2 separate regions of the Homo sapiens genome follow, and region 2 is linked to region 1. A link means that fine-mapping ties the variant in region 1 to the expression of a gene that starts in the linked region. Tissue or cell type: testis. Region 1 holds a variant in brackets; the other region holds the start of a gene. All regions are shown on one strand. Distances are from middle to middle.

Region 1 (5,392 bases):
ATGGCTTGATGTCTTTGTATCAGTTTTTGAGAATTTTTGCCATTATTTATTTAAATATTGTTTCTGTCCCAACCTCTCCATCATCTCCTTTTGGGATTCAAATTACAACTCTACTAGACTTACTTGTGCTCAGTCTTTCTCTCTAATCTTTTTTTGTTGTTCCTTTCTTTCCTTATCCTTTGCTTCCTTACTGCTTATTTTTTTCTAGATTTGGGGATATTTTGTATTCCATTTTATTTTTTATATTCCTTCTAAAATTCTCATTAAAATACCAGTCTAACTCTATGAGATGTCATTTAAAAATCTTCGGTGTCTCTTTTTCAGTCTGTCCTTCAGTATACACATATTAACTCCTATGTGTCATGTACTGAGTTTGGTGCAAGTGACAAAAAGACAAGCAAAATAAAAGCAATTTAACACTTATAGTCCAGAGATAAAAGAGAATTTACAATACAGTGCAATAAATGCTTTGCTTGGTGAGTGTAAGATATTACTGAGAACACATATTAGGAGCAAAAAACTCATTTGGTGGGGACCAGAGAGGGGTTCTTTGGAGATAGTGACATATAAGTGAAACTTTAAGGATGAAAAAGAATTATCCATGAAAAGAGGAGGGGTGAAAGAATGTGTGAAGGCCTGGAGGTAGTCAGGGTGTGTTTGAAGAACTGAAAGAACTTCAAGATGATTAAAGCATAGAATGCAAGAAGGAGAATGTGTGATGAGATAGGACAGCCCTGGCTCAAAGATACTTAAACAATTTTATGGATTTGGACTCCACCATGAGGGCAATGGGGAGAAAATGAAGATTTTTAAGTAAGAGAAGAAATGTTTAGGATACCTAAACAAGATTGATTATACTTGGGAGTTGAGGAAGGAAAAGGAGTAGAGAAAGACCGTTAGGATACCTCAGGTTTCTGAATGGCATTCACTTATATAAGGAAAATCAGTGGAATGACAGACTTTGAAGGAAAGACAATGATGAGTTGTTCTGAACATTCTGAGAATGAGACACTTGTAGGGCATCCAACTAGAGATTATAAGTAATTAGCCTCATAAATCAGAAGTTCAGAATAGAATGTTGGGCTGGAGATAAAGAGTTTGGAATCTTTCCTACTCCATTTCATTTTTCACATTGCTTTTAAAATTCTCTTTTAAACACAGATCTAACTATATGAGACTATTAACTATAACTATTAACTATTAACTATAACACCTATTTAAAATCCAATTGTTGCCTCGTCAGTATTTTCATAATACAGTTGAAACTCTAACATGGTGGTGTACAAATACCTCTAACATCTAGTCCTTACCAAACTTTCTGGACTAACACCTCAATTTCTACTTATATTTCAGTCGGATACAATTTCTGTCTGTTCACTGAACCCAAAGTTTATTCTTGCCTCCTTGTGCTTTTAATATGTACTGTTTCTTCTACTCAGAATGCTTTGCCCCCCCTCTTTTCAACCTGAATAACTCCTATTCGACCTTCAATACCTTAGTTCCAATGCTATCTCCCCTGAGCCTTTTCCATTGCTCTCGTCTTTTCATAAATATTTCTAAAGCAATGTTTCTTAAACAGCAAATCTTTCCCTCTCTATTGGTTATGAAATAAATTTAGAAGGTCATGGCAAGTATTTTAAAATGAAATAAAAGAGTAGGAAATATCAGAATCTGTCATACTTAGAAAAATCAGTATTGTCTTTTGCAACATTTGCTTTGGTTATATAGGTTTGAAATACATATTTGCAGCTACAGCTGAGTTTTTTGAGCTTCAACAGTTGACAGTGGAAAAATGTTTGAATTTGAAGTTAGATTTGCATTAAGCAGCAAAAAACGAGACAATAGCAAAAAGAAAAAATATCCCTAGTTCATGGATGTTGCTTTAGGGAGCAAAGGAGGGGAATAGGACTAGGACTAGAAAAAGAAATCTAGGAGACGTTTGACATGTAATGCTTATTTTAAAAAATAATTAATGCAAATACGACAATGTATTAATATTTTTCATTTGGGGAAGTGGGTAGAGAAGTGTCTTTTTTGTTCTTTACGTATTTTATAACATTAAAAAAAGATTCAAAAGCGGAAAATTTTCTAGCTCCATCACTTACTAAATTCTTATTTGTGAAGTCGAAATAATAGTGGAATTTATAAGGAGGTGAAAATGTTTCCTCTTGACATCTGCTGTCAAATTCCTCTTAGGATAGGGGGAGGATACCTTACCAGGCTTTTGGTAGAAGGTATGGTGACTCCTGAAGCTATGGGAGTGAGAGCTTCTGAAAGAGACAAAGAGGGCAATTATGGCAAGAGCTTTGGTAGTGCATGGGGTAAGGGGCCAAGGGTAATCCCTCTTGGGGCCAGTTGAAAGGATTCTTAGGAGAATCTACTCACAATTTTTTTTTTATGGGGGGGGGCTTTAATGAAACCTCTTCTCATGACTCCCAAAACATCAGAAACATTTATTGCCCATGAGTGGTTTCTGGCATTTTAGTTTGTTGTGAACACCGAGGGGCAGGATGAGTGTCACATCGTATTTAATCCTTTAATAATCCATAGCCACAAACTTAGCTAGAGGCCCTGTGCATTTGATCTGTATTATACTGAATAAAATTCCTAACCGCCTACATTGTAGAATTCAG[A/G]ACATTCCCCCAAATTTGTGCTAATTCCCACAGGAACAAATTCTCAGCAAAATGAATGCTCAGTGGTGACTTTCAGCACATCTTCCACTAAGATGCATCCCGATTAAAAATATGAATAAGACAAAGTTGGCCATGCTCATTGGAACTATCTCGCATTATTGCCAATGCAATAATGCAAGAACACGATATAAATTTATAAGCATTGGAAAGAAAGGATGTCATTTGTACACAATTACACAATACAGAGGGGAAAAAACAACCCATGTGGCCAGGCACAGTGGCTCATGCCTGTAATCCCAGCACTTTGGAGGGCCAACACTTGAGGTCAGGAATTTGAGACCAGCCTGGCCAACATGGCAAAGCCCTGTCTGTACTAAAAATACAAAAATTAGCTGGGTGTGGTGGCGTACACCTGTGATTTCAGCTACTCGGGAGGCTGAGGCACGAGAATCACTGGAACTAGGGAAGCAAAAGTTGCAGTGAGCTGATACCGTGCTACTGCACTCCAGCTACAGTGAGAGAGTCAGACTCTGCTTCAAAAACAAGCAAGCAAACAAACAAGCAAACAAACCCATGAGACTACAAGCTATCAAAACTAAAAAGTTCAGAAAATTTGTTGAAACAAAAGCAATATACAAAGATAATTTTCCTCTTCTTTAAAAAAGTGAAAAAAAGTTATAGAAAGAGATAGCATTTTCAAAAGCAGTAGCAACAATAATAACAAATCAATACACCTGCCTGGGTGAGAAATCTACAAACGATATACAAGAATTTTATGGAAAAAAATGAGAAAATATCAATGAAAGCCATGAAAGAAATCTGAATGAACTGACAATTGATTTCATATACCATGACTCAGTATCATAAAGGTATCAACTCTCAACATGACCTTTAAAATTCTTACCATTTTAATCACACTACCAACAAGATGGTTTTTCTATGTGAAACTTGATAAAAATGATTCTTGTAAAGAGGAGTAAAAAGTTTAAGAAAAGCCAAATCACACTGAAAGGGAAGAGCAAGAAGAGAGCAAAAGAATGATTACGTACCAATAACAACAGGAACAGTGTTATTGGCACAGTGATAGATCAATAGAACAGTCTAGGGAGCACAGACCCAGACCCAAGCATAGGAGGGAGGTGGTACTAGAAATCAGTGTGCACGTGATGGACACACTCTCTGGTGTTGAGACAAATGGTTTTCCATATCGAAGAAATCTGAGGTCACTATTTCATACCATACATAAAAACAACTTCAAATATATTAAAGACATATACAAAAAGCAAATTGGAAAAACTATCATAAATAAATATAAACACACAATGTTCTCACTTATTTGTAGGATCTAAAAAGTAAAACAATTGAACTCATGGACATACAGAGTAGAAGGATGGTTGCCAGAGGCTGGGAAGGGTAGTGGGGGATTTGCAGGGCAGGGAGGTAAGGATGGTTAATGGATACAAAAAAAAAAAAGAAAGAATGAATAAGACCTACTATTTGATAGTACAATAGGGTGACTACAGTCAATAATAACTTAATTGTACATTTTAAACTAACTTGAAGGGTGTAATTGGATTGTTTGTAACTCAGAGGATAAATGCTTGAGGGAACGGATAATCCCCAAAAATTAATAAATATAAGCACATAACTTTATTATTATGAGAATTATTATGAGATAGGGAAAGATTTTTTATTTTTTTACATATGAAAATATGCACAACACCACTATTAAAGAAGAACTTCACATTAAGATAATGAGTTACTAGTTAATGTCCATCAGATTGGCACATAATTTAAGATTCTGGCAATATAAAGTTAGGTGAGAATAAGGGGAATGGGAAATATTTTACTATGTTGGTGGGAGTATAAATTAGCAAAATTCTTCCTAGAGCAGTTGAGCAAAATCTAATAAAGTTGAAGATACAGGTACCATACAACTGAATAAGTACATGTAGGAATTTTAGAAGATTTTAAAAGTTTAGGTATGAACCCCAAAGGAACCTTTGTATGTATGCACAAGTAGACTTGCACAAGGATAATCATTGCCGTAGACATAACATTTTCTTGGATGCATTCAAAGACTTGGTAAATTTTTTTTTAAGTAAAAAAGAAAATTAAAATATTTAAAAATTTTTTCATCTATATTATTGACGAGAAAAACATTAATAGGGGAATAAACAAGATACAGTAAATTTGTATAATAAAATACTACATAATGGTTAAAGTGACTGAATTAGGTCTCTCTATATTACTATAGTTAAATCCCCCAAATTACAGTAAGTCAAAAAGAGCTGGCACATTTAGCATGATGCCATTTATGTAAATTAAAAATACACAAATTATTTTAAATATATATATATGGATCCATATGCATGTAAACAAAGTATAAAATGAGAACCAGAATGATTTATTCCAATATCAGATCAGAACTGCAAATACAATTAAAGGGAACTTCAAATTTATGAATTTTTCTTTTTGGTAATGTGAAACAATACAATAAAATATTAACATGCATTCATTCTGCATGATTAATATATGGGTGCTTTTAACATTATACTTGCTGTATTTTAACATGTTTTTAAAAACAAAATGTGTTCAGCATGAGTTGGAAATACAGTGTGTAGATGTTTCTTTAAAATTATCCTATTTATTAGTCTCTAGGCTCCTCTGTAGCATATTTGAGAGACACAGTTTAAAACAAGGCAACCATTTTCAGATAGAAGATAGATTTCTTTCTATCTAAGATTCTTCTGTAACTC
Region 2 (5,392 bases), 40 kb after region 1:
GAAAGTTCCTTTATCAGAAATCTTATACCTGGAGAGTTTTGTATTCAAAACTAGACTGCTCTTTAATGTGCCTCTCAGCAGACACAGACATCTCAGGCAAATTTTTAAAATAATTAAATGGCATTGGCTTTGAAAATGTCATGATTACTAGCCCAGTGCTTAAGAAGCATGTGCACTTAACATCCTGCTGACACTCCAAGCATTCATATTTGTCAGAAAAGCTCTAACCTATGAAGATACACTATTGAGTATGACCGTAGAGGTAGTGGGAAGGAGACTTTAGAGGTAAACTGTCAGATTACAGATATTTCATCTGTGTTCAACATGAGACAGGATTGTAAGACACGACTTCTCCCTGACATTGACTACAACAGCAGAGAAATGCAGAGAAATGCTTTTCTCTTTCAACATTCCTTACATCTGGGCTTCATAACAGACTGGCTATTCTTTTCAGCATGTTCATTTTATAAGATCTCAATTTTTTTCCTCTAGTAAAACAATAGCACTTTAAAATAAATTTAATTCCACAGAAGACTCCCAAGAAGGCTTAACAAAATCTTTGCAATCACAGAAACCTGTCCTGGAGCTATAGGGTGTTCTTATTTTGGTAGGTGAATAAGAAATTTTTTTCTTTTCTTTTCTTTTTTTATGAGACAGGGTCTCTCTCTGTCATCCAGGCTGGAGTACAGTGGTACAATCATAGTTTACTGCAACCACCAACTCCTGGGTTCAAGTGATCCTCCCGCCTCAGCCTCCCAAGTAGCTGAGACTACAGGCACATGGCACTATGCCTGCTAATTTTGAAAAAAATTTTGTAGACATGTGGTGTTGCTATGTTGCCCGGGCTGTCTCTAATACTCCTGGCCTCAAGTGATTCTTTTGCCTTGGCCTCCCAAATTGCTGGAATTACAGGCATGAGCCACTATGCCTGGCCGAATAAGAAATTTCTAATGGCTGCACACATCTTTGAAAGAGCTGAGACATTTCAGGAACAAACTCGTGTGATACAGCCCATCACCTGAACCTTCCACTTGCCTACCTATTAGTCTTCTTTTGGAAGATGAGAGATTTTTCTCAGTGGTTAGTTAACTTTCCCTTAAGCATAAGTAATTTTCTAAGCCCCTTCTTGGTATCTCACTCCCTCCGTAATTGATTAACATTAAAACAGGGGCAGTTACAAAAGCTCAAGTCTAGCATTTCAATGTTACTTTGGGAGACGCTGCATTGATAATATTGACGACAATCATTTCTCAGAGGACCTCTAAGAACAAATATTTAAAAATGGACTTGGACTGAACAATAAACATAGGACTTGTAGGTCCAAAGTAACAATAGCTTTAAATTATGTATACTCAATAAGTCAATTTTAAAGAAAACATTGGAAAACCAATGGTAATGCTTTAGTTGATGAATGATTTATATTAAATGTAAAAATAGGGATTATAATTTTATATAACATTCTTACGGACATTTCCAAAACCAATATTCTGGTAATTTTTTTGTCCCCAGTTCTGTAAAATAGTTCTAGAAAGAAACTATTTCTGTAAATTGACTTAACATATTAAATGGGAACTTTGGAGGCCAGGCGCGGTGGCTCACGCTTGTAATCCCAGCACTTTGGGAGGCCGACGCGGGCAGATCACGAGGTCAGGAGATCAAGACCACGGTGAAACCTCGTCTCTACTAAAAATACAAAAAATTAGCCGGGCGTGGTGGCGGGCGCCTGTAGTCCTAGCTACTCCGAGAGGCTGAGGCAAGAGAATGGCGTGAAACCGGGAGGCGGAGCTTACAGTGAGCCAAGATCGCGCCACTGCACTCTGTCTGAAAAAAAAAAAAAAAAAAAACGGAACTTTGGCTGGAATCTCAGCTAGGTCTTATACTATGGAGATCTGTCCAGGTGGATTTTTATACTTCTCAAGGACTAGAACCTTCTAAAACAGTAGTTGTGGAAGTAGTTGTATGCTACAGTCCATTATTTCTAGAAAATTTGTGAGATATATTCTAGTTCTAACTGGTTCATAAGAGTATTGAAACAAAAGAGGTCAAGCATGCCATCATTCCTCCTCTATAACTCAGCTCTAACTCTGCTTCCATCGCATCTATGCATGCTCACTGTTTTTGTTTCTCATTCTTATCTTCCTGCTCATGGACTTTATTCTGCATTGCCTTCGAAGCTTCCTGAATGTCTTGTGTATCTTTCATCTTGGCTAGAAAAGAAGTCTCTTTTCTTTCCTAGGAAAGCAGATCATGACATCAGATGACGAATATGGCTGAGGTTCAAGGCAGATTTTTCTTTTCAAAGTGACCTCACCTGTTAATCCAACTACCTTCAAGCATCAGCTAGGTTTAATAATTTCTTTACCAAACTAGTACCAGAACCACAATTCTCATGAGGATATGTAAGTACCAACATAGCCAATCCTGATCTTGGCTAAGGATGTCGGACAAACCATGGTGCAGGTGTGTAGCATTCACTGGAAGCAGCTTGAGAGGGCAGTAACTTGGCAAAGAGACCTTTATGACTACAGTTGTTGCTTCTGGCCAACACTGCCTCTTAGAACTATGAGGTAATGTCTCCATAGTAACCAAGTTCCAGTTTCTGAACAATTCCTATGTTGATGCTGTACCTTCTTTGCAGTTTGCAGACATTAAATAAAGTAATTTGCTCTTAGGAAAGCCATATCTTCCACTAGACTTTGCCACCAAAATTATTGATATCTTGTTTTGTATTTCTAAGAGTCAAGGCCAGTATGTACATACTGGGGAAATTAATCACAACTCTTTTCTTCTTTTTTTTCTTTCTCTCTCTCTGGACAAATACTTTGAGCACATGGAAACAGCTAGGCAGCAAGAATAGAAACCATAAAACTTCAATGCAAAAAGAAGTCTATTGGTAGAAATCATAAAATCAAAGCCAGAACACCTAAATTCTTCTCCTAGTTATGCCAGCAGTATGATTTAGAAGAAATCACTTAATTCAGTTTCTCCTCTGTGTAAAACACTCACACTTAATGTTTCATGATAATGATAGTATGGCAATAAAATTAATAACTATGAAAGTACATGATTATATACAGTAATAAGATATATAAATGATGATTACTGGATGAGTAAGCTTATTAAAAATAGTTAATAAGATTCTACTATTTCTTAAAAACTGGCTAGGTACCATGAATAAACAATACCTGCTTTCAGAAATAATACTAAAATATCTTCTAATATAGATTTGAAAATGATTTTTAAAGACAATAAAGTAACTGTCTTAAAAAGCCAAAAAGAAAAAGTCAAGACGTGTAACACGTAATAAGGTAAGTTAAAAGGAAGTAAACGTTTGACCGTATTTCCTCCCTCTCAGAGATGAAGCACAATTCCTTATGAACATTATGGGCCAATTATGTAAATATAGCATCAGAAGGTTTATAAATTTTTACTTACGCTTAGTAAAGAATTAAAAATGGGCTTGTCATTTCTTGTCACTCTCCCAGTCTCCCTACCTGTACCAGTCTGGATGGCTTTCTAGCTGTTAAAAATTTCTCTACTTGAACTGCATATATTAGCATAAAGTCGTTATGACCTCATTGGTTTTATCAGAGAGCCTGCTCATATTTTCCAACATATTTTGGAGAAATAAAATTCTGTCAGCTGAGAAAAACTTTTGAAGGCTTTGAAGTTGTGAGTGTTTCAATACTCATTCCCCATAGTAGACATTTTTCTTATTTCCTTTTCTTAAATTACTGTATATATGCAATGAAAACCAATTTCCTCTTTTGTTGTTGCTTAAACTAATTTAGTGGTTTTCAACAGGGGCCAAAGTGAACCATAGAGAGCATTTTGTAAATGTAAGAGGATGTTGATAGTAGTCATTAAAGATTCGGGTCGGGTATTAGTGGCATTTGGTAGACAGAACCCAGAGATGCTAGACTTTCCACAATGTGGCAGATAATCCTACTTAGTAAATAGTGTTCCCACATGACACGTGCCTTTCTAGGCATTCATGCAGGTGAAAAATAGATTACAATTATCTGGCCAGGCACAGTGGTTCCCACCTGTAATCCCAGCACTTTGGGAGGCCAAAGGGAGTGAATTACTTGAGGTCAGGAGTTCAAGACCAGTCTGGCCAACATGATGAAACCCCGTCTCTACTAAAAAAATACAAAAATCAGCTGGGTGTGGTGGCGGGTGCCTGTAATCCCAGCTACTCTGGAGGCTAAGGCAGGAGAATCGCTTGAACCGGGGATGTGGAGTTGCAGTGAGCTGAGATCGTGCCACTGCATTCCAGCTTGGGTGACAGAACCAGTCTCCGTCATTAAAAAAAAAAAAAAAAGATTAGAATTATATGAACCTAAAGCCTAGCTCTATATGTCATATAAATACAAAATATTTTTGCAGTTTTAGTATATACCAAAGTCTTTAGGATGTAACTATTTATTGTTTAAATTCCGGAAAGACTCTATATTGATTTGTTCAGACGTTTCCAAGAGTTATCAGTTTGGAAAAAATTACATCACCAATAGCAATACAACTTGGTAGTATTCATGTGGTTGATACAACTTATTGGACAGAGAATAACAGTAGCAATAATACCATCAGCAGCAACAAAATCAACCTGAATCTGATGAATCCTCTGCTTTACATGTAATACAGGAAACAGAAGAGCACATTAGCTAATCAACTAAGAAATTTAAAAGACACTTTTTGTAATTTGTGGATATAACATATCCTAATTCAAGCAAACTGTAGAAATTTATAAGACAGTAGAAACTTAAGCACATGGTACTTAATGATATTAAGGAATAACTGGTAAATATTTTAGGTGTGATATGGTGTCATGATTATGTTTTTTGAAAAGGGTTCTTATCTTTTAGTGATACATACTAAAACATTTATAGATAAAATGATATGACGTCCTCTGTTTCTAATGAATACAGACAGTAGGAAGCAGATGAGAATGTAGATGAAAAAGTTGGGCCATGACTTGTAATTATTAAAGCTGAGTAATAGTTACATGGAGATTCATTATAGATTATGATTATTTTTGACTGCAAATATCTAAGTTCTCCATAGCAAAAAGACTAAAATAGAAGCCTCAGTTTGGGATGCACAGACTCAAATGTTAATGGTGTCATCAACATGGCTGTGTCTGCTCAGGAAGGAGAGGGTCAGCAAGAACTGAAAGGAAGAAGCAGAGGTGCATGAGGTGCAATAATCTTTTTTTTTTTTTTTTTTTTTTTTTTGAGATGGATGTCGCTGTGTCATCCAGGCTGGAGTGCAATGGTGCAATCTCGGCTCACTGCAACCTCTGCCTCCTAGGTTCAAGTGATTCTACTGCCTTAGCCTCCCAAGTAGCTAGGACTACAGGCATGTGCCACCACGCCCGGCCAATTTTTGTATT

Evidence for each region.
Region 2: LMNTD1 starts here. The variant in region 1 is fine-mapped to the expression of LMNTD1 in testis (GTEx, PIP 0.94).

Annotation. Positions count from the first base shown.
Region 1 is chr12:25,510,466-25,515,857 of GRCh38, forward strand. The region is part of intron 8 of LMNTD1 (lamin tail domain containing 1); the gene reads right to left. Among named protein-coding and RNA genes, the nearest start is that of LMNTD1, 40 kb to the right of the region's middle. The variant A/G (reference allele first, on the strand shown) is at 2,634.
Region 2 is chr12:25,550,758-25,556,149 of GRCh38, forward strand. It overlaps LMNTD1 (lamin tail domain containing 1), which reads right to left and starts at 2,526. Exons shown (of 10, transcript NM_001145728.2): 1 at 2,312-2,526; 2 at 2,114-2,232. The coding sequence starts at 2,202.